Linked DNA regions of Homo sapiens. The protein of the gene in region 2 interacts with the protein of the main gene of each other region in a pairwise test. Each region holds a gene or a part of one and is shown on either strand. Other genes may lie near its edges.

Region 1 (3,491 bases), on a different chromosome or scaffold from region 2:
AATATGGAGCCTGGCCCCCAAAGGCACTCCATCCCAGGACCAGGGACAAGCCAAAGGGCTGACCTCAAGCACTAAGCGCTCCACAGGGGAATAATTGAAAATGGAGTAAGAGTTCTTGGTCTTGGAGGGTGAAGGGTGGGAGGAGGGAGAAGATCAGGAAAAATAACTAATGGATATTAGGCTTAATACCTGGGTGATGAAATAATCTGTACAACAAATCCCCATGACACAAGTTTACGTGTGTAACAAACTTGCATATATAGGCCAGGGGCGGTGGCTGATGCCTGTAATCCTAGCACTTTGGGAGGCCGAGGCGGGCAGATCACCTGAGGTCGGGAGTTCAAGACCAGCCTGACCAACATGGGGAAACCCCGTCTCTACTAAAAGTACAAAATTACCCGGGCGTGGTGGCGCATGTCTGTAATCCCAGCTACTTGGGATGCTGAGGCAGGAGAATCCTTGAACCCGGGAGGTGGAGGTTGCAGTGAGCCGAGATCATGCCATTACGCTCCAGCCTGAGCAACAAGAGCAAAACTCCGTCTCAGGAAAACAAACAAAAAAACCTGCACATATACTTCTGAATTTAAAACAAAAGTTAAAAAACAAAGATTTCTTGGTCTCTGGTCACTACCTCCCTCATCAGCTTTGCGCCTCCACTGTCACCCTCAGGAATGTTCCACATACTCAGCGAGTATGCTTGGGGGGCAAAAGGGTGAAAGATACAAAAGCTTCTGATATCTATTTAACTGATTTCACCCAAATGCTTTGAACCTGGGAATGTACCTCTCCCCCTCCCCCACCCCCAACAGGAGTGAGACAAGGGCCAGGGCTATTGCCCCTGCTGACTCAATATTGGCTAATCACTGCCTAGAACTGATAAGGTGATCAAATGACCAGGTGCCTTCAACCTTTACCCTGGTAGAAGCCTCTTATTCACCTCTTTTCCTGCCAGAGCCCTCCATTGGGAGGGGACGGGCGGAAGCTGTTTTCTGAATTTGTTTTACTGGGGGTAGGGTATGTTCAGTGATCAGCATCCAGGTCATTCTGGGCTCTCCTGTTTTCTCCCCGTCTCATTACACATTAACTCAAAAACGGACAAGATCATTTACACTTGCCCTCTTACCCGACCCTCATTCCCCTAACCCCCATAGCCCTCAACCCTGTCCCTGATTTCAATTCCTTTCTCCTTTCTTCTGCTCCCCAATATCTCTCTGCCAAGTTGCAGTAAAGTGGGATAAGGTTGAGAGATGAGATCTACCCATAATGGAATAAAGACACCATGAGCTTTCCATGGTATGATGGGTTGATGGTATTCCATGGGTTGATATGTCAGAGCTTTCCAGAGAAATAACTTGGAATCCTGCTTCCTGTTGCACTCAAGTCCAAGGACCTCAGATCTCAAAAGAATGAACCTCAAATATACCTGAAGTGTACCCCCTTAGCCTCCACTAAGAGCTGTACCCCCTGCCTCTCACCCCATCACCATGAGTCTTCCATGTGCTTGTCCTCTCCTCCCCCATTTCTCCAACTTGTTTATCCTCACATAATCCCTGCCCCACTGGGCCCATCCATAGTCCCTGTCACCTGACAGGGGGTGGGTAAACAGACAGGTATATAGCCCCTTCCTCTCCAGCCAGGGCAGGCACAGACACCAAGGACAGAGACGCTGGCTAGGTAAGATAAGGAGGCAAGATGTGTGAGCAGCATCCAAAGAGGCCTGGGCTTCAGTTGTGGAGAGGGAGAGAGCCAGGTTGGAATGGGCAGCAGGTAGGGAGATCCCTGGGGAGGAGCTGAAGCCCATTTGGCTTCAGTGTCCCCCAAACCCCCACCACCCTCTTCCTAGGCCGCCCTCCCCACTGTTACCAACATGAAGCTGCTCGCAGCAACTGTGCTACTCCTCACCATCTGCAGCCTTGAAGGTGGGTGTGATATGGAGAGGGGGCCAAAAGGGAGAATGTGCTGGTGGTTATAGCTACCTATCTGCCTGTGCTCTTATATCCAGGTCTGGCAACCAAAGGGCTCAAAAGGAAGATCATTCCCTCTCTAAAGCCCAGAAAGCCCATCCAAAGATCTGGCTGGATACCTTTTTGGGGAGGGGGCAGAGAGCTGGGGTGGGTACTGGCAGAGGTATGGCAGGAGGCCAGGATTCACTGCTGTGGACCCAGCTGAAAAGAGTGTGTGTGTGTGTGTGTGTGTGTGTGTGTGTGTGTGTGGGCAGGAGCTTTGGTTCGGAGACAGGCAAAGGAGCCATGTGTGGAGAGCCTGGTTTCTCAGTACTTCCAGACCGTGACTGACTATGGCAAGGACCTGATGGAGAAGGTCAAGAGCCCAGAGCTTCAGGCCGAGGCCAAGTAAGTCTCAGGGCAAGGGGTTCAGGGGCTGTGGAACTGTGGAGAGAAAGAAGGGAAGATGAGAGGTCCCACAGAAGTCTGAACCCAGGGGTGGGGATTAGGGCAGATTAGGCTTAAATTGCAGAGAAAAAGTATTTCATCACCCAAAGATCCCACACGTCTCTTAGATAGAGAGGAACAGCAAGAACTGGGCCTTGAATTTCAGTCTCTAGAGTCTGTCCCTCTACCTAGCAAAGGTCTTGACTCTATTCCTACCTAGGGGCTTTGCCATGCGATGGACCAGGCACTAGAGTTTGGGGACCTGAGTCAGTCTGCTCTGACCTCCCACCACCACCAAGGCCCCTGCCAGTGCCTAGGGTCCCTCAGATTAAACTCTAATCCCCTCACCTATCCAGGTCTTACTTTGAAAAGTCAAAGGAGCAGCTGACACCCCTGATCAAGAAGGCTGGAACGGAACTGGTTAACTTCTTGAGCTATTTCGTGGAACTTGGAACACAGCCTGCCACCCAGTGAAGTGTCCAGACCATTGTCTTCCAACCCCAGCTGGCCTCTAGAACACCCACTGGCCAGTCCTAGAGCTCCTGTCCCTACCCACTCTTTGCTACAATAAATGCTGAATGAATCCAGCTCTGAGCCTGGTATGTTTGGGGGACTGGGAAAAGTAGGGGAGTAAGGGAGGAGAAGAGGAAGGAAAAGGAAAAATCTGCTTCTAGAAGGAGAGAGGTTTGAGTGTGGAGGGGTGAAGAAAGGATTGAAGACACAACTGATGAAAATGACAGGATGAGGGTGCCATGATTCTCCAAACCCAGAGTCTCCTACAGCCTGGGCACGACTCTGCAGGTGAACACTAAAGAGGCTTTGCATTGCACAAGGAACTAGGAGAGGAAGGAAGGATTCACAAACTGAATCCCTCGATTTCTGGAGGTCATAGAAAATGAGGGTACCCTGGTGGGGTGCAGTGGCTCACACCTGTAATCCCTGCACTTTGGGAGGCCAAGGTAGGTGGATCACTTGAGATCAGGAGTTCCAGACCAGCCTAGCCAACATGGTAAAACCCCGTCTCTACTAAAAATACAAAAATTAGCCAGGTGTTGTGGCACGTGCCTGTAATCCCAGCTACTCGGGAGACTGAGGCATGAG
Region 2 (3,397 bases):
ATTCCTGACCTCAGGTGATCCGCCTGCCTTGGCCTCCCAAAGTGCCGGGATTACAGGCATGAGCCACCACGCCTGGCCTCATTCTCCACTTTTGATGTGTAAGTCCTTGGCCTGCCTTTAGCATGAATCCTGTTAGGTCACTTTATCAGGAATACTCCTATGTTTGATGTCTCTCTTTGGTAATTTCCCATCCTGTGATGTCCTCCTCCTGCTCCTGGCTATAAATCCCCACTTGTCCTTGTTGTATTCAGAGTGGAGCTCAATTTCTACTCTCTATTGCAATAGAGTCTTGAATGAAGTCCTCCTGGCCATTTTAACAAGTGTCAGAATAATTTTTCCTTTAACATTTGCCATGCACTTTGTGGATGACAACCGTGGGTAGCCCACTGCCAACTGCCTTCTGGGTCATGCTGCCTCTCCTCCCTACTCCAGGAATCAGATCTTATTCCAGCCTCTTGAGCTCCTCTTCCACACCAGCCCCTAGCTGACATGTGTGGCAATACAGTTCTTGTAGGGTCAAACCTAGAGAGGATGGGGCAATTCTATTCCAACCAACTTCACCTAGTTCATTCAGTCAGTCAGATAAGCAAAACATCTGAATACATTTAAGTGGTTTCTCAACATAAATAATACATTTTCAAAGAGCTTTCTTATTCATATTACAGACATAAACAAAATACATACACTCAAGGCACAAAATATATACACTCAAGGCACAAAATATCTGTCTTGTGCTATTTCAAATAAAAAAATCATAGCAGATATAGATCTTTGGTGTTCCAATGGTGCCATAAACACGTGATGGCCTTTTTTTTTTTGAACGAAGAATTGTGTGAGATTTTACCTCTTGGGTTCCAAGTATGTTTTTGTTTGTTGGTAGAGAGACTTTGTTGTAAAAGTCTCCTCACCTATAGCTCTGGTGATTTTTCATGTTTTATTCATCTCTTTCATTTGGCTTCAAGTGAAGGAAGAACGTGATAAAATTCAAAATTTACTAAATTTCTTGTTAATGTCAGATATGGAACTTTCCTCTTGACTGTCTCTTTTCATTGGCGGTGTTACTGAAGGCTTCTGTCGGGAATGGTGCGCCAACCATTCGTTGGTTCTCAAGGCTTTGCAGTGGAGGCAGTGCCTTTCGCTCATTTGGTAACTTCCCAGATTCCTTTGCCTCTGAGCCATTTTTCTCCTCTTAATACTGTCTGGTGATGGGTGGTGTTCACTTTCACTCTCCTTCCACGAGGAGGCTTCTGAGTTAGACTCTTCACTGCCATACTCCGTAGTATCACTGTCATGTTGGTTCTGGTTCACCTCATTGAACTGAGACTGGCGCCTGGCTCGTCTTTGTTCAGGATAGGCATTGACCAAAGCCACTTCTGAGTTGGTTACAGGGGTAAGTTGGTTCTGCTTTGGTTTCTTCATTGTTTGTGAGGGATCCCAGGCACTGTCTTTGCTTTGCCGCTTACAGGAAGTCTCTTTGCTTGCTAACAACCAATGAAACATATCAAGTTAGTAATATTGTTGGTTACTATGAATTCCTATTACTTAAGAAGCCTGTGCACGTGTGAGCTCACTCTTAGTGGCCAGTTGTCAAGCCATTGCTTTTCTCCAGTCACCTGCAAGTGTTGGCAGCTGACTGCATTTTCTAGTACCATATCCCAACTCCTGCAGACCAGAGAGCTTAGATAGATGCTTGACATATCACCATATCACTTTTGAAGTTTTGTGGATGCTAAACATAAGGTCAAAGGAAAAGATCTCTAAACTTTTCCAGGGAAGAACTCTTTTTTCCCTTTGAAAATTGAAGTCTTACAGATTCAAGCAGGTATATGAATGTGATTTGGGGAGCAGGAACTAAGAAGGATCTTTCCTTTACGTAGTGGTGTGAGGAAGTTGGCTTGTACCTGCTCAGAAGAGCTGATAAACTTTCAGGAATTTTGAGAGATGGTTAAACATAGCCATTATTAAAAATTAAATTATACCAACTTACAATAAATTAAGTTACTAAAAATAGAGGTAATACTCAAAACCCATCACTTCCTAATTATCTTACTACATTTGTTTATGCTATGTGCTCTTCTGGTTTTTTATGTCCGTTGTATTTGGATGCTGGAAACTCTATGCTGTTTTTTTGTTTTGTTTTTTTTTGTTTTTGAGATGGAGTCTCGCTCTGTTGCCCAGGCTAGAGTGCAGTGGCACGATCTCGGCTCACTGCAATGTCTGTCTCCCAGGTTCAAGTGATCCTCCTGCCTCAGCCCCCCAGCAGCTGGGATTATAGGCACGTGCCACCATGCACAGCTAATTTTTTTGTATTTTTAGTAGAGACAGGGTTTTGCCATGTTGGCCAGGCTGGTCTCGAACTCCTGACCTCAGGAGATCCACCCTCCTTGGCCACCCAAAGTGCTGAGATTACAGGCGTGAGCCACCACGCCCGGCGGAAATTCTATGTTAAGGGTGCACTACTGCACATCTCCTCCCAACTCCATGTTCAATGACATGAGGTGGATAGCTTAAAATCAGCTTTGGTGGAAGTATTTATACCACGAAAATCAGCAGACACTAAACATCAGGGCTTGATGTATGGCTTTGTTGATTGTCTAGGCTTAAGAAAATGATGGAGAACATGTTACTAATGCAGATTACATATTACATTTCAGTATCATCCCTGTAGCCACTACATTGTGACTAACCCTGCAAAATGAGGAAATATTCTTCCAGTATTTTAGAACTATTATCCATTCCAGCAAAGAAGTCACTCACATCACTGACAACCAAGTTAAGTTCCAACATACATCTATCTTCTGCTTCATTTTCATCTCACTCCTTAACTTAGAGGAAAATAACATTCACGCTGGAACTATACTTGTTCATCAATTGCAGCCATGGTTGGCTAAGGTGCAAGGGTCTGGCAAAAATGAAGGAGAGCGTTTTGTGAGAATCAGTTGTCTATATGAAATTGGCCATAAGGAGTATTGTATATTTTATTATTTTAAATGGTGTGATATATATTTATTTATTTTTATTTATTTATTTATTAAATTTTTAGAGTCAGGGACTCACTGTGCCGCCCAGGCTGGAGTGTAGTGGCATGATTATGCCTCACTGGCAGCCTCGAACTCCTGGGCTCAAGTGATTCTGTTGCCTCAGCCTCCTGAGTAGCTGAGACCGCAGGTGCGAACAACCATGCCAGCTAATTTTCTTTTTTAAAAAGACAGGGTTTTGCTATGTTCTCCAGGCTGATCTTGAACTCCTGGCCTCAAGCAGTTCTCCTGCTTCAGCCTCTGGAGGTGCTGAGATGACGTGCAACCTTTATATCAGTAAAATTTTTAGTAAGCATATGTACACACAGGAGTTTTGGAGAACCAGTTGTTAAACATTTACCAGTGCACCACTGCTTATA
Region 3 (3,754 bases), on a different chromosome or scaffold from region 2:
TACAGCATTCAAGACCAACCAAGAAATTGCCTCTGCCGCCCTCTACATACTTAATGCTTATTGCTGTCTGCCTTATCATCTATGCTCTGGTAAACAAAAGTAACCTGCTTTTTTGTGACCCCTTTCGTGGGTATTTTTACTCCCCTCTGACAAGAATGCATTATTTTTTCTCCTTTATCTGAGTCTTTAAGACTCAGCCTACATGTTCCCTCCTCCGGATATTGACTCTAGATCCGTGAATCTGAGTTAGTGGTTCCTTTTAGAGGACCTCACAAGGAGCCAGGCATCTGTCTATCACTACGTGCCCCCACCCTATTGTAACTAAGCACTGCATTCTCACCTCTCTATTCAGGTGGTCCGCAGAGCCCATGTCTGATTGATCTCTATGTCTCCAGCAGCCAGCAAGGAAGCACCTCTTTAGAGACCTGCACCTATACAATACCTACCACCTTTTATTTCTCGATATGTGAACTCCATTGAGAACAAACGAGTAAATGTAGGTAATGTGCCTTCTTCTTTTCTTTTCTTTTCTTTTTTTTTTTAGATGGAGTCTCGCTCTGTTGCCCAGGCTGGAGTTTAGTGGCACAATCTCGGCTCACTGTAACCTCCGCCTCCCAGGTTCAAGCGATTCTGCCGCCTCAGCCTACCAAGTAGTTGGGATTACAGGTGCCCACCACCACGCCCAGCTAATTTTTTTTGTATTTTTAGTAGAGGTGGGGTTTCATGATGTTGGCTAGGATGGTTTTCAACTCCTGACCTCAAGTGATCCACCCACCTCGGCCTCCCAAAGTGCTAGGATTACAGGTGTGAGCCACAGCGCCCAGCCAGTAATGTGCCTTCTTAAGTTCTGTGAGCCATTCTAACAAATTATCAGAACAGAGGAAGGGGTTATAAACATCCCCCCACCCCCGATTTATAGCCAGTCAGTCAGAAGTACAGGTGGCCACCTGGGACTTGGATTGGTGTCTGAAGTGAGGACAGTTTTGGGAGAGTGAGCCCTTTAACTTGTGGGATCTGACACTAACTCCAGGTAGACAGCGTCGGAGCTGAATTGAATTGTGAGATACCCAGTGGTGTCCCCAGAGAACTGGAGAATTGCTTGATATGGAAAAGACCCACACATTTGATGCCAGAAGTACTGCATAAGTCGAGAATTGAGTTTGACTTAATCATCATATTTGGGCTTGATTGCGTGGCTGAAACTCTTCCCACTTCAGTAATTGTTTCTTTCATTTTCATGAAACTCTGAAGAAGGAAGGGCTGGACATTCAGATTCCTTGACCCTTGACATTTGGAAGCATGAACTCCAGTCTCTCACAGAAGGCTAGAGGTGAAGGAACATTCAGACACATTGGTTTCTAAGAAGAGTCCGCTGACAACATACCCAAGGTGTCTTCTGAAAATTATAAGAAATCCTGAGTTTCTGTTAGGGGATTGGCTCCAGCTCCATTGTCCCTCCCCCATCATTCAGTAGTCTCCGCGAAAGCCCTTAGAGCCGGTGTTGCTCCACAGGAAGCCAAGAAGCACACAGGAAAAGGAGCTTAGCTGCTGGTAAGTTGGGGACTGACAATTTAAAATTTATCAATGGAACTCCTGCTCTCTGACAAACACCTCCTAAATTCTAGAGCAGTGCTGTAATGGAGCATCCACTTGCCACAGGTGGCTTTTGAGTGCCTATGTTTCTATCTTGATCTGAAATGTGCTTAAGTGTAAAATATACTTAGTGTAGTTTAATCATTAGTATGATCAAAATAATACAATTTATCTCGTTAATAACTTTCATTTTGGTAACGTGTTCCAATGATTTTTTTTATTTGCGGGGTTAAATGAAACATATTATTATAATTAATTTCTCCCAATGATTTTACTTTTTTAACATGGCTACTAGAAAGTTGTAAGTCACGTGTGTGGCTGGCATTTAGGGCTTGCATTACCCTGTCTCTACTAAAAATGCAAACAACAAACTAGCCAGGCGTAGTGGTGGGAGCCTGTAATCCCAGCTACTCAGGAGGCTGAGGCAGGAGAATCGCTTGAACCTAGGAGGCCGAGGTTGCAGTGAGCCGATATCGTGCCATTGCACTCCAGCCTGGGCAAGAAGAGTGAAACTCTAACTCAAAGATAAATAAACATGTGAAGGAGCCAAGTGTGAGGAGCTTAAGAGGAAGAGCATGGTAGGCAGAAGGAACAGAGAAGGCAGAAGCCCCGAGATGACAATGAGCTGCATGTTCAAGGAATCAGAGCCCGTTATGGGTGGAGCCCAGTGTGTCCCACGAGAGTGCAGAGATGAGGTCTGAGGAATGCACAGGGCAGGTCCAGGGGTACTTGAGGGAACTTAAGATAAGGATAAGTTAGAAGTTTGGAAGCCATTAGAAGGTGTTGAAAATAGCATCACCATTTTATTGGACCTTTTTTTTTTTTTTTTTTGAGACAGAATCTTGCTCTGTCGCCCAGGCTGAAGTGCAGTGGCGCAGTCTCGGCTCACTGCAAACTCTGCCTCTCAGGGTCAAGCGATTCTCCTGCCTCAGCCTCCCAAGTAGCTGGGATTACAGGCACCCGCCATCACGCCCAGCTAATTTTTGTGTTTTTTTAGTAGAGACGGGGTTTCATCATGTTGGGCAGGTTGGTCTTGAACTCCTGACCTCAGGTGATCCACCCACCTCAGCCTCCCAAAGTGCTGGGATTACAGGCATGAGCCACTCCCGGCCCTTATTGGACTTTTTTTTTTTTTTTGAGACAGAGTTTTGCTCTTGTTGCCCAGGCTGGAGTGCAATGGCACGATCTCAGCTCACTGCAACCTCCGCCTCCCTGGTTCAAGCGATTCTCCTGCGTCAGCCTCCCGAGCATCTGGAATTACAGGCACGTGCCACCACGCCCAGCTAATTTTGTATTTTTAGTAGAGATGGGGTTTCTTCATGTTGGCCAGGTTGGTCTCGAACTCCTGACCTCTGGTGACCCACCTGCCTCGGCCTCCCAAAGTGCTGGGATTACAGGTGTGAGCCACTGCACCTGGCCCTTATTGAACTTTTTAAAAGCTCATTTGGTTTCCTTCTGGAGATTGGATTGTAGGGCAGGGGAAAGTAGGACCAGGAACAACCTATTTGCAAAGTTGGCGCAAACATTCCTGCCTGACAGGACCATGGACACAGGTTGTAGAGATAGAGATGGCTCTGGCTGTGCATTCAGCAGATTCTGTAGATAGAATTAATAGGACTTGGATGGGATTGTGGTGAGAGAAAGTGAAATGAAAGATAAGTTCTAGTTTGGAAGTTTTAACAACTGAATGTTTAAACTCAAATAGACACAAAATATTGGAAGAGTGGCAGGTTTGGGAGGATGAGACAATCAACTGTTTGGTTGAGCCACGTTAGGTTTGAAATGTCTACGGGACTCCCGTGGGGAGAGGTTATATCAGACTGGAGCACCAGAGAGAGGCCAAGGCTGATAGTTTAGATGAAAAGAGAGCATGATATTTTAAGCCCTGAGACTGGATAATATCACCTATAGAAAGACTATATAGAGATAAGAGAGGTGGGGAACAAGTAAAAGCTGCGGGACACTCCTAAATTTAGAGTCAAATTTAGAGCAGAAAATACTAGCAAAGGGGACTGAAAAGCGGTGGCCAATTGAGCTTCAAATGCAAGTGAAAGTGTGTTGTGTGTACATTTATCATCTCATGGCACAGGAAAAACGTGATTTAAGGAGAAGGAAGCGATCCAATGGGAAGAAGAGATCCAATGGATCCTCTATCACGAAG

What was found.
Region 1: the proteins of SSMEM1 (region 2) and APOA2 interact in binary tests that used the Homo sapiens proteins (3 or more experiments, as listed by UniProt).
Region 3: the proteins of SSMEM1 (region 2) and FPR2 interact in binary tests that used the Homo sapiens proteins (3 or more experiments, as listed by UniProt).

The regions. Positions count from the first base shown.
Region 1 is NC_000001.11:161,221,778-161,225,268, reverse strand, and holds APOA2 (apolipoprotein A-II preproprotein), read left to right. Parts: upstream 1-1,640; 5' UTR 1,641-1,674; intron 1,675-1,843; 5' UTR 1,844-1,867; coding exon 1,868-1,919; intron 1,920-2,218; coding exon 2,219-2,351; intron 2,352-2,746; coding exon 2,747-2,864; 3' UTR 2,865-2,977; downstream 2,978-3,491. UniProt on the Homo sapiens protein: May stabilize HDL (high density lipoprotein) structure by its association with lipids, and affect the HDL metabolism.
Region 2 is NC_000007.14:130,214,058-130,217,454, reverse strand, and holds the end of SSMEM1 (serine-rich single-pass membrane protein 1), read right to left. Parts: intron 1,482-3,397; coding exon 985-1,481; 3' UTR 611-984; downstream 1-610.
Region 3 is NC_000019.10:51,759,680-51,763,433, forward strand, and holds the start of FPR2 (N-formyl peptide receptor 2), read left to right. Parts: upstream 1-1,500; 5' UTR 1,501-1,551; intron 1,552-3,682; exon of another isoform or gene 3,683-3,754. UniProt on the Homo sapiens protein: Low affinity receptor for N-formyl-methionyl peptides, which are powerful neutrophil chemotactic factors. Binding of FMLP to the receptor causes activation of neutrophils.